Homo sapiens: one gene and its partner. Changing the gene in region 1 together with any one later gene gives a genetic interaction. Each region holds a gene or a part of one and is shown in the gene's direction. Other genes may lie near its edges.

Region 1 (4,595 bases):
CCTCCCAAAGTGCTGGGATTACAGGCGTAAGCCACCGCGCCCGGCCCAGAATTCTTTGTTTTGAGATAGGGTCTTGCTCTGTCGTCCAGGTTGGAGTGCAGTGGCGCGATCTTGGCTCACTGCAGCTTGACCTTCCAGGCTCAAGCGATGCTTCCAAGCTCAGCGTCTGCAATAGCTAGGACTACAGCTGTGCACCACCATGCCTGGCTAATTTTTTTGTAGATATGGGGTTTCTCCGTGTTGCCCAGGCTGATCTGGAAGTCCTGGGCTCAAGCAATCCTCCTGCCTCGGCCTCCCAAAGTGCTGGAATTACAGGTGTGAGCCACCATGCCTGACCTCAGAATTCTTGATAACCCTGTGAGGATGGCTTAAGCTATACTCAGGTGTGTGACCTTGTACAAGTTACTAGCCTATCTAGGCCTGTTTCCTCACTTACAAAATGGGGACAAAAATAAACCTACCTCATAGTCATGAGCATTACATGAACTGTTATATCTTAGAAGCTCAGAAATGCCTGGTGGTAAATGCTATAAATACACCCTTATCATTATTAGTGAGTACCTAGGTTGTGCATGCCACTGTTGGGTGCTTTACGCACATTAATTTACTTGTCAGAATAGCCATGGGGGGGAGGTACTATTATAATGCCACTTTAGATATGAAGAAACTGACGTTTTGAGAGATTGGATGATTAAATCTCTGACTCCAAACACAACGCTTCCTCCAACGCGGTTTGGCCTTGGAGAGGAAGGCAGCTTCTTTCAAGACACCCCTGAGCGAGAAAGTCGCGTCATCCGGGGGCTCCCATTGCCCGAGCCCGCCACGTGGCAGTCTGGGCCGAATGCCTCTCCCCACTTTCTGGGTGGGCGAGGCCTGACTCCAACCCCGGCCCTCCGCTCTAGACCTGGTACCACTGTAGATTCAATCCAAACTCCCAGAAATGTGCCGCCTTTCATAATCCCCAGCTGTCCACTACAGGTGGTAACTCCCCTGCTGCTCAATGTGGCGTAAATCTTCCCTTCCATAGCTGCGGGACCACAGCTCACCGACCTGGGACAAACACCCGAGACGGGCCGAATTCCAGCTCGCAGGTAGTAATTCCGCCCCTCCCCTCCCCGCTCCGTCGCGTCCAGTCCAGCTCTTCTAGCCCTGCCCCGCTCCTCTAGCCCAACCGCTCCCCACTGTTGGCCCCGCCCCTCCCCGCCCCGTCCAGCTCTTCTCGCCCCGCCCCGCTCTTCTCGCCCAACTGCTCCTCGCTGTTGGCCCCGCCCCTCCCCCGCCACCCCCGCCCCCGCCCCGCCCCTCTCTTCTCGCCCAACCGCCCACCTCTGTTGGCCCCGCCCTCCCATCTAAGTCACGCCTCCTAGTAGGTCAATTTAGCTTCTCCAGCTCCAGAGCCCAGACTCCTCATTGGGCGCAGCACTATTCCCGCCTCTTCCTTGGGTCGCGAGCGCCGAACTCATCGAACGCAGCCAATGGGTGATACGACGGCAGCGCGGCGGGAGGTTCGATTGACCCGGTCTTGGCGGGTCGGTGAGTCTTGGCGGCTGTTAACGCGCGCTTTGGGAACAGGAAGGTTGAGAGAGAGGTGCTGGGGTCTGCGTCTATCTCTGTCGCTCTTTTCAGCCCCTCCTGGTATTCCCCTCCTAACCTGGGTTTTTTACACGCCCGCGTGGCTTCCTGCTCGACCTCCCTGAGTCTGATCCTGGTTTCCACCTCCAGCCCTGGGAAATTTCCTTTCTCCAGACTCGCCCTCCCCACCCGGGCCTCGGACTTTCACCCCAGCTTCTCTCTCCTGGCCAGTGATTACCCACCCCCAATCCCACCCCGCCCCGCCGCGCAACTACCTCCTCCCTTCACCCGGACTGGGACCATCATCCCCACTCCACTCCGCCCAGTCTGGGACTCCACCTGCCTCCTCCCCAATCCCACACTAATCTCTGCTTGGTCTCTTCCTCTTTGGCCTAATCTCTCGTCTCGGCTTATTGGGGACGGCCACTCTCACAGTTTGGTTCCAAACACCAGTTCCTGGATGGATTCCCGCCATCCATGCCCCCTCTTTAATTAGCCGGTCCTCTCAATAATGTAGCAGCCCCCTCTACAGATTAGACCCTGGTCCTACACTCTTAGCCGCTGCCTGCTTTTGACCTTTGGCTCATGGGTACTTGACGTTTTAAACTCCTAGGCCCAGGATGGTAAGTGTGGGCCTAGGGGAGACTGGGAATAGCCCTGGGTCAGGGTCTAGTAGGCCTAGGCTGCAGGATCCTTGCAGGCACTGTTTCTGTTCTCCCTTTACAGAGGAGGAGCTTGGCTCCCAGCCAGCTGGCCAAGAGAAAACCTGAAGGCAGGTCCTGTGATGATGAAGACTGGCAACCTGGCCTAGTGGTGAGCACTCAAGGGGACAGGGAAGGTGGGTAGAGCTGTTTGGACAGAAAAGAAGCCAGGATTTGGTTTCTAGGGTTACATAGCCAATTCCAGATGCCTCTTTTGTATGTTCAATAAACTTTTAGTGAGTACTTACTATGTGCCAGGCATTGAACAAGATTAGTAAAATCTTTATCCTCAGGGTAGTCACTAGAAGCTAATATAGCCTCAGTTTTCCTGGTGGGAAAAGATAAGCAAAAGAGCCAGTTGGATTGGACCTTTTGACTCTGCTTGGAAAAAAGGGCTACACAACAGCAATTAGCAGCTGGCTCTTTTGCTCTTTGTCCCCTGCCCAGTGTCACAGAACAGTAGAGTGTTCTGGGCCTACCTTGGAGTCCTGGGCTCACTTGGGCCTAGATCTGACAGGTTGTGTCCTTCCAGTCCTTGCTCATACTCAAGTACAGTATATTCTACTTTAGGTTGGGCCCTGGGCTCTGCTTCCTGTTTTGGAGGCTTGTTGGGGCTGGCTGTGGGCAGGACCTATGTAAACCAAAATAAATAGGACAGTGCAGCATGGACTTCAGAGAATAAGAGCAGTTCAAGAAGTGGGGGCTTGGCCACTGGAACTTTGAAGGAAGGGATCAGCTACGCAAGGACTAGAAGGCACTTTTTGGCAGGAGCAGTGTGTGAATAAGGTGTGGGGTAGGGGTGCTGGTGTTTGTTTCAGGTGTGTCTTACAGGATCACTGAGGCTTCAAATATCCTGGCAAGCTGGTACAAGTGTGTTCTTGCCTAATGGCTTGATGGGGCTTGCTCAATAGTTGTACCGTGGTGTGCAAGGGGCTTCTCTACCTGTGAAGGAGGCACATTGGCTGACCCTTGCCATGTACATGGGTCTCAGACTTGAACTTGGGGCAGCATTCTCTGCATCTGGGTCTGCTGTCAGTTGCTGGTTGCTTCTGAAGATGCTTTTAGTGCCAGTGTCCTCACAGCCATGGGTGGCCTGAGTGGGGAGTGGCCTCAGTGGCCTGGGAGTTGAAGGCAGCTGTATTCTTGCCTCTTGGAAACTCAGCGAAATGTTTGGTTGCTCCATCATTCCATGGAGCTTTTGGAGTGAAGCTTTGGGCCACCAGGACTCCATGCTGTTGGTAGACTTGCTCTTCAGAGGCCCATTTTATTTACCTCTTCCATTGCCCCGCTCAGTTTAGGCAGGTTATTTAATCTCATTAAGCTCTAGTTTTCTCACCTCTTAAATAAGGATAATAACTCTACATAATAGAGTTGCTATGAAGATGATACACTATGACATGTGTGAAGAATTTAGCACAGTGCCTGGCACTTAATAAGCACTTCAAGTGTTAGTTGCCATTATGGTGATTTCTGTGGTCTTCTAGACTTCACCTTTCCCAATTCTCTCTCCTAGACTCCTAGGAAACGGAAATCCAGCAGTGAGACCCAGATCCAGGAGTGTTTCCTGTCTCCTTTTCGGAAACCTTTGAGTCAGCTAACCAATCAACCACCTTGTCTGGACAGCAGTCAGCATGTAAGCCAGAACTGCAACCTGCATGTGTATGTCTGTGCCCAGTCACTCAGCCTAGGTAGACTCCTGTCCCTGTACACTCCCTCAGTGCTTTCTAGAGTGGCCAGAAGACACACATCTGTAGGGGCTTTGGACCTGCCCACAGCTGCTGGGGCCTGCTTAGAGAGGTGTGCCTGACTTGTGCCTGGTTTATAGTAGCTACATGGGCACCAGATATCAGATGGTTCAGATTCCTGAGGAAAGGAGGGTAAAGGAACTAGGATCCTCATGTCAGCTCAGACTCTGACTCTGTATATGACTTTAAGGTGTACCAGAGTCATGTATTTCCTCTAGTAAAGTCAAACTTAATCACCACCATGGCAGGTTCTGTGCATTGCCTCATGTAATTCTCACGTTTTAAGATGAGAAAACAGTCTCAGAAGGGTTAAGTAATTTGCTCAGAGTGGGTGGAGCAGATCTGTCTATCTCCAAAGCTTTTCCACTAAGCTTTATGAGGAATGTTTTGAAGGAAAAGTAGGAATACATAATGGAGATTAGTCATTTGTGCATTCAGCAAACATTTAAAAACGGTTTTGTGGCCGGGTCGGGTGGTTCACGCCTGTAATCACAGCACTTTGGAAGGCTGAGATGGGTGGATCAACTGAGGTTAGGAGTTTGAGACCAGCCTGGCCAACATGGTGAAACCCCGTCTC
Region 2 (4,424 bases), on another chromosome or scaffold:
GGCCAGGCTGGTCTCGAACTCCTGACCTTGTGATCCACCCTCCTCAGCCTCCCAAAGTGCTGGGATTACAGGCGTGAGCCACCGCGCCCAGCCATGGCACTAGTTTTAATGCCTCAGTTGCCCTGCCTGCCTCCTAAGTAGATGTTAAAGGCTACTGCTGTCTGCCCATGTACACCTGTTACACTTACCAATGTGTAACTTTAGCAGTAGAGTCTGTGGATCTGTGGAGTTCTAGTGTGGTTTTTCTCTCCAATTGTTAAGCTCAAGGGAAGCAAGTATCTTACACTCTCACGTATCCCTCACATACAGCACATGGTAAAACCTTTTTTTTTTTGAGACAGAGTCTAGCTCTGTTGCTAGTGTGCACAATCACAGCCTACTGCAGCCTCAACTCTCCAGCTCAAGCGATCCTCCCACCTCAGCCTCCCATGTAGCTGGGACTACAGGCGTGTGCCACCAGCCCGGCTAATTTTTGTATTTTTTGTGGAGACGGGGTGTCGCCGTGTTGCCCAAGCTGGTCTCAAACTCCTGGGCTCAAGCAATCTGTCCTTCTCGGCCTCCCAAAGTGCTGGGATTGCAGGCGTGAGCCACCATGCCCGGCCAAAATATTTTATTGATTAATTTGTGCTGTACTTGGTTGACAATGGCGCTTCCTTGCTGTTCTCCCACCACCTCACTGGCAACGGGTGATAAACCCTTTTTCAGATCCTACTACGTGTCAGCCTACTTCCGGCTGGGGGAAGATGGTTATAGCGAGAGGGGAAGAATTGGTTCAGTGATGAGAACATGGTTGGTTCCTGCCTTCGACAAGCTTTCAATCTAATGCCTGTTTTTTTCCAAGGACAATTCAGAACGGTCTGACAAGGGATTTTTTTTTTTTTCCTGCCTTTCGGCCTCAGAGGCCATCTGGGAAAAAGAGTTTAGAATTTCCCTGCCATTTCCATGCCGTGCTGGGAGGAACATTTGAAATCGGGCCTGGCGGGGTACCAGCAGGCAGCAATAGCAAGCGGGGTGGAGAGGAGCAGGGCCAGGCCCCCGAGCCGTCGCCATGGCAATCCAGCCTGCTTTCCAGTAGCTTATACCACCCACGTGGAGTAGCATACACTACTTTGTAATATCGTGGTTGTGTCGTGAGAACTTTAAGATTTTGCAGTTCCTTGTAGGCAGGAGTCCTGTTTGCTGCTACTTTACAATACTAGGCTTAAGACATTTTATGAAATGAACTCACACAACAGTCTCTGAGAGGCTCAAGCCCCTCCTTCCCTTCCGGGACGGAGGATCATAGAGCTGTCTGGCGCAGCGAGGCCTCCCGGCGCCACCGAGACGCGCAGAGGACGGCTAGAGCGTTGCTCGCCGAGAGACTTCCTCTTCGTTAAGTCGGCCTTCCCAACATGGCGCAGTCTATTAACATCACGGAGCTGAATCTGCCGCAGCTAGAAATGCTCAAGAACCAGCTGGACCAGGTGGGGACGGGCCCCAGAGGCACCTCTTTCCTGCTCTACATCCCCCTTGCCCACGCGTACTTCTCGCGCCCGGTTCCAAGTTGGCAGCCTACCTTTCCCAGGCGAAACCTCTATCCGATCCCAGGACCTGCCCCCTCCCCGGCCGCGCTCCTTTCTCCCCTTAGTCCTCTCATTGACCCGCTATCCCGGTCCTCTGTAGGAAGTGGAGTTCTTGTCCACGTCCATTGCTCAGCTCAAAGTGGTACAGACCAAGTATGTGGAAGCCAAGGACTGTCTGAACGTGCTGAACAAGAGCAACGAGGGTATGGGGTAGGCGGGTGAGGGTAACCTAAAGTGGCGAACCTGCTTCTCTCGTCCCACCTCCTAACCCAGTTTTTCTTACCTGAAACGAGAAAATCCATTACATATCGTATACCGCTTCATGAACCCTTTGCATGTTGCCTGCCTAGAATTGAAAAGTACAGGACATTCCTCTGCTCCTATTGCCCCTGTTTCCGTTCTTTTCACACTGTCTGTGGGTGCTGTGCCCTGTTGGAACTCTCTTTAACGTCTTACGTTGGAGCCGCTAACCTTCCCCAGGTGTTTGTCTTCATTGCTTTCACAGGGAAAGAATTACTCGTCCCACTGACGAGTTCTGTATCCTTTCCACAGGAACGGCTACCTGCTGCCTTCTCCCTTTCTCCTTCACTCCCCCAAAAAGCGGGGAGGGGGATTGTTTTGATTACTTCAGATTACCCTCTCCTCACAATGATTTTGAGGATACCCTTTTTTTTTTTCTTTCTTTTTTGAGACGGAATTTCGCTCTGTCGCCCAGGCTGGAGCGCAATGGTGAGATCTTGGCTTACTGCAACCTCCGCCTCCCGAGTTCAAGAGATTCTTCTGCCTCAGTCTCCCGAGTAGCTGGGACTTTAGGTACGCGCCACCACGACCGGCTAATTTTTGTATTAATAGTAGAGTTGGGGGTTTCACCATATTGGCCAGGCTAGTCTCGAACTCCTGACCTCGTGATCCGCCTGCCTCGGCCTCCCAAAGTGCTAGGATTACATTACAGGCGTGAGCCACTGCCCCCGGCCAAGAATACTCTTATTACACACTTTGTAGCTCTTTTATCTGACTTCACACCAACATCCAGCTAATGTCTTGTGAACACCAAGGAGTATGTATAGTTGAGATGTAATATTTCCCTTTGCTGTTTGAGAACATTAATATGGAGATAAAGCTGGTGGTTTACACTTTGCTAATATCTTAGAAGATACAGGCAATAGACAAAAATAGGAGGATATAGAAACAGGGAGCTTGGCTCTGTTAATCTTCAACTTCAGCTTAATTGTGGCTCATTTCTAAACTGTCACTAAGAAACCTGGATTGTGTTCACTTGTTCAGTGTTTTATTTGAATGAGCAAGTTATGGCAGTAGGGCATCTTTAATCTGTAGTCTCAGAACTGACAGGCTAAAAGGAACACAGGAATAGTAGTGTGTAGTAGGGAATGGTTTAAAAAAAAAAATTAGCCAGGCACAGTGGTTCACGCCTGTAATCCCAGCACTTTGGGAGGCCAAGGCTGGCAGATCACCTGAGGTCAGGAGTTAGAGATCGGTCTGGCCAACATGGTGAAACCCTGTCTTTACTAAATATACAAAAATTAGCCAGGCGTGGTGGCACATGCTTGTAATCCCAGCTACTCCGGCGACTGAGACAGGAGAATTGCTTTAACCCGAGAGGCAGAGGTTGCAGTGAGCCGATAGCGGGCAATTGCACTCCAACCTGGGCGATAGAGCGAGACTCTGTCTCAGAAAGCAAAAAACAAACAAAACATTGACTTTGTCAGGAATTAGCTACTTCATGATTGAGGGCATTAAGGGAAATGAGGCTGGCTTTTTACTTGTAGTACTCTACAACAGTAGGAAAACATGTCTAGTCTTTCTGGAGGGGCTAATGGGAAGAATTGCAAGAACTGCTTAGAGAGTGAGAGATGGGATGAGGCAGGACAAGAGGGTGTTCCAGCATACATCATTTTCTCCTTAAAGAACCAACTTCTCTGTCTTCTTTCCATTTGGAGTTATAGGTATTGTTCTAAGGCCTCCAGATTATTCAGTCCTTATGCCTTGTAGCTTTTTGGAAAAAGAGGGTCTTTGGAGGCCAAGCAGGCTGGCTGGCGGAATCATGGCTCATGCTGGGCTGGCTAGTTTTTCCCTTAATTCTTGCTTCTCAGATGTATGTCCCTGGGAAGCTGCATGATGTGGAACACGTGCTCATCGATGTGGGAACTGGGTACTATGTAGAGAAGGTGAGTGAGAGCATGTGGATGCCCCTCTAAACAGGGAAGGGAAATTCAGGGGAAGCTCTAGAGCGCAGCATGGCCAGAGGGAGTCTCCTTTTAGCCCCTTATTCACCTCTGATCTTGTAGACAGCTGAGGATGCCAAGGACTTCTTCAAGAGGAAGATAGATTTTCTAACCAAGCAGATGGAGAAAATCCAACCAGCTCTTCAGGAGAAGCACGCCATGAAACAGGGTAAGTTTTTCCTGGGGCACCTCTTGACCCTATCTCCATAATAAGGAACATGGATTGCAGTGTGAACCACGGGGGTGTCCCCTTTGCTGGAGTAAAACTATGTCTTAGTTTCTCTTTGGCATCTTTAGAATCTGTGTATTGCATAATCACTATCTGTAGATTCCTGGGTTGAGCGTTTGAGAAATTTAGAGGAAGGAAATCATGTTTGTGCTTTGGTGGAGCTCCTATTTAATGACGATGGAATGGGGGAATGAGATGAACACACAGGAAGGAATCATGATCCAAACGAACTAAATACCAGCAATTATAACCCCGACTGCACATGAGAATCACTCAGGAAGTTTAAAAAGAAAGCTTGGGCCCATTCCAGATTGACTAAATCAACTTGGAAGTCAAAGGAGGGGAAGTTGTACCAAGGTCTGTTTTTTTTTAAAAAAGCTCCCCTCTGTT

Evidence for each region.
Region 2: changes in RAD54L (region 1) and PFDN5 together harm fitness more than expected from each alone (negative genetic interaction), as found in Homo sapiens cells (one study listed by BioGRID).

Annotation. Positions count from the first base shown.
Region 1 is NC_000001.11:46,246,214-46,250,808, forward strand, and holds the start of RAD54L (DNA repair and recombination protein RAD54-like), read left to right. Parts: upstream 1-1,549; 5' UTR 1,550-2,192; coding exon 2,193-2,195; intron 2,196-2,298; coding exon 2,299-2,385; intron 2,386-3,786; coding exon 3,787-3,906; intron 3,907-4,595. UniProt on the Homo sapiens protein: Plays an essential role in homologous recombination (HR) which is a major pathway for repairing DNA double-strand breaks (DSBs), single-stranded DNA (ssDNA) gaps, and stalled or collapsed replication forks.
Region 2 is NC_000012.12:53,294,177-53,298,600, forward strand, and holds the start of PFDN5 (prefoldin subunit 5), read left to right. Parts: upstream 1-1,365; 5' UTR 1,366-1,391; coding exon 1,392-1,463; intron 1,464-1,662; coding exon 1,663-1,765; intron 1,766-2,067; coding exon 2,068-2,099; intron 2,100-3,673; coding exon 3,674-3,748; intron 3,749-3,868; coding exon 3,869-3,974; intron 3,975-4,424. UniProt on the Homo sapiens protein: Binds specifically to cytosolic chaperonin (c-CPN) and transfers target proteins to it. Binds to nascent polypeptide chain and promotes folding in an environment in which there are many competing pathways for nonnative proteins.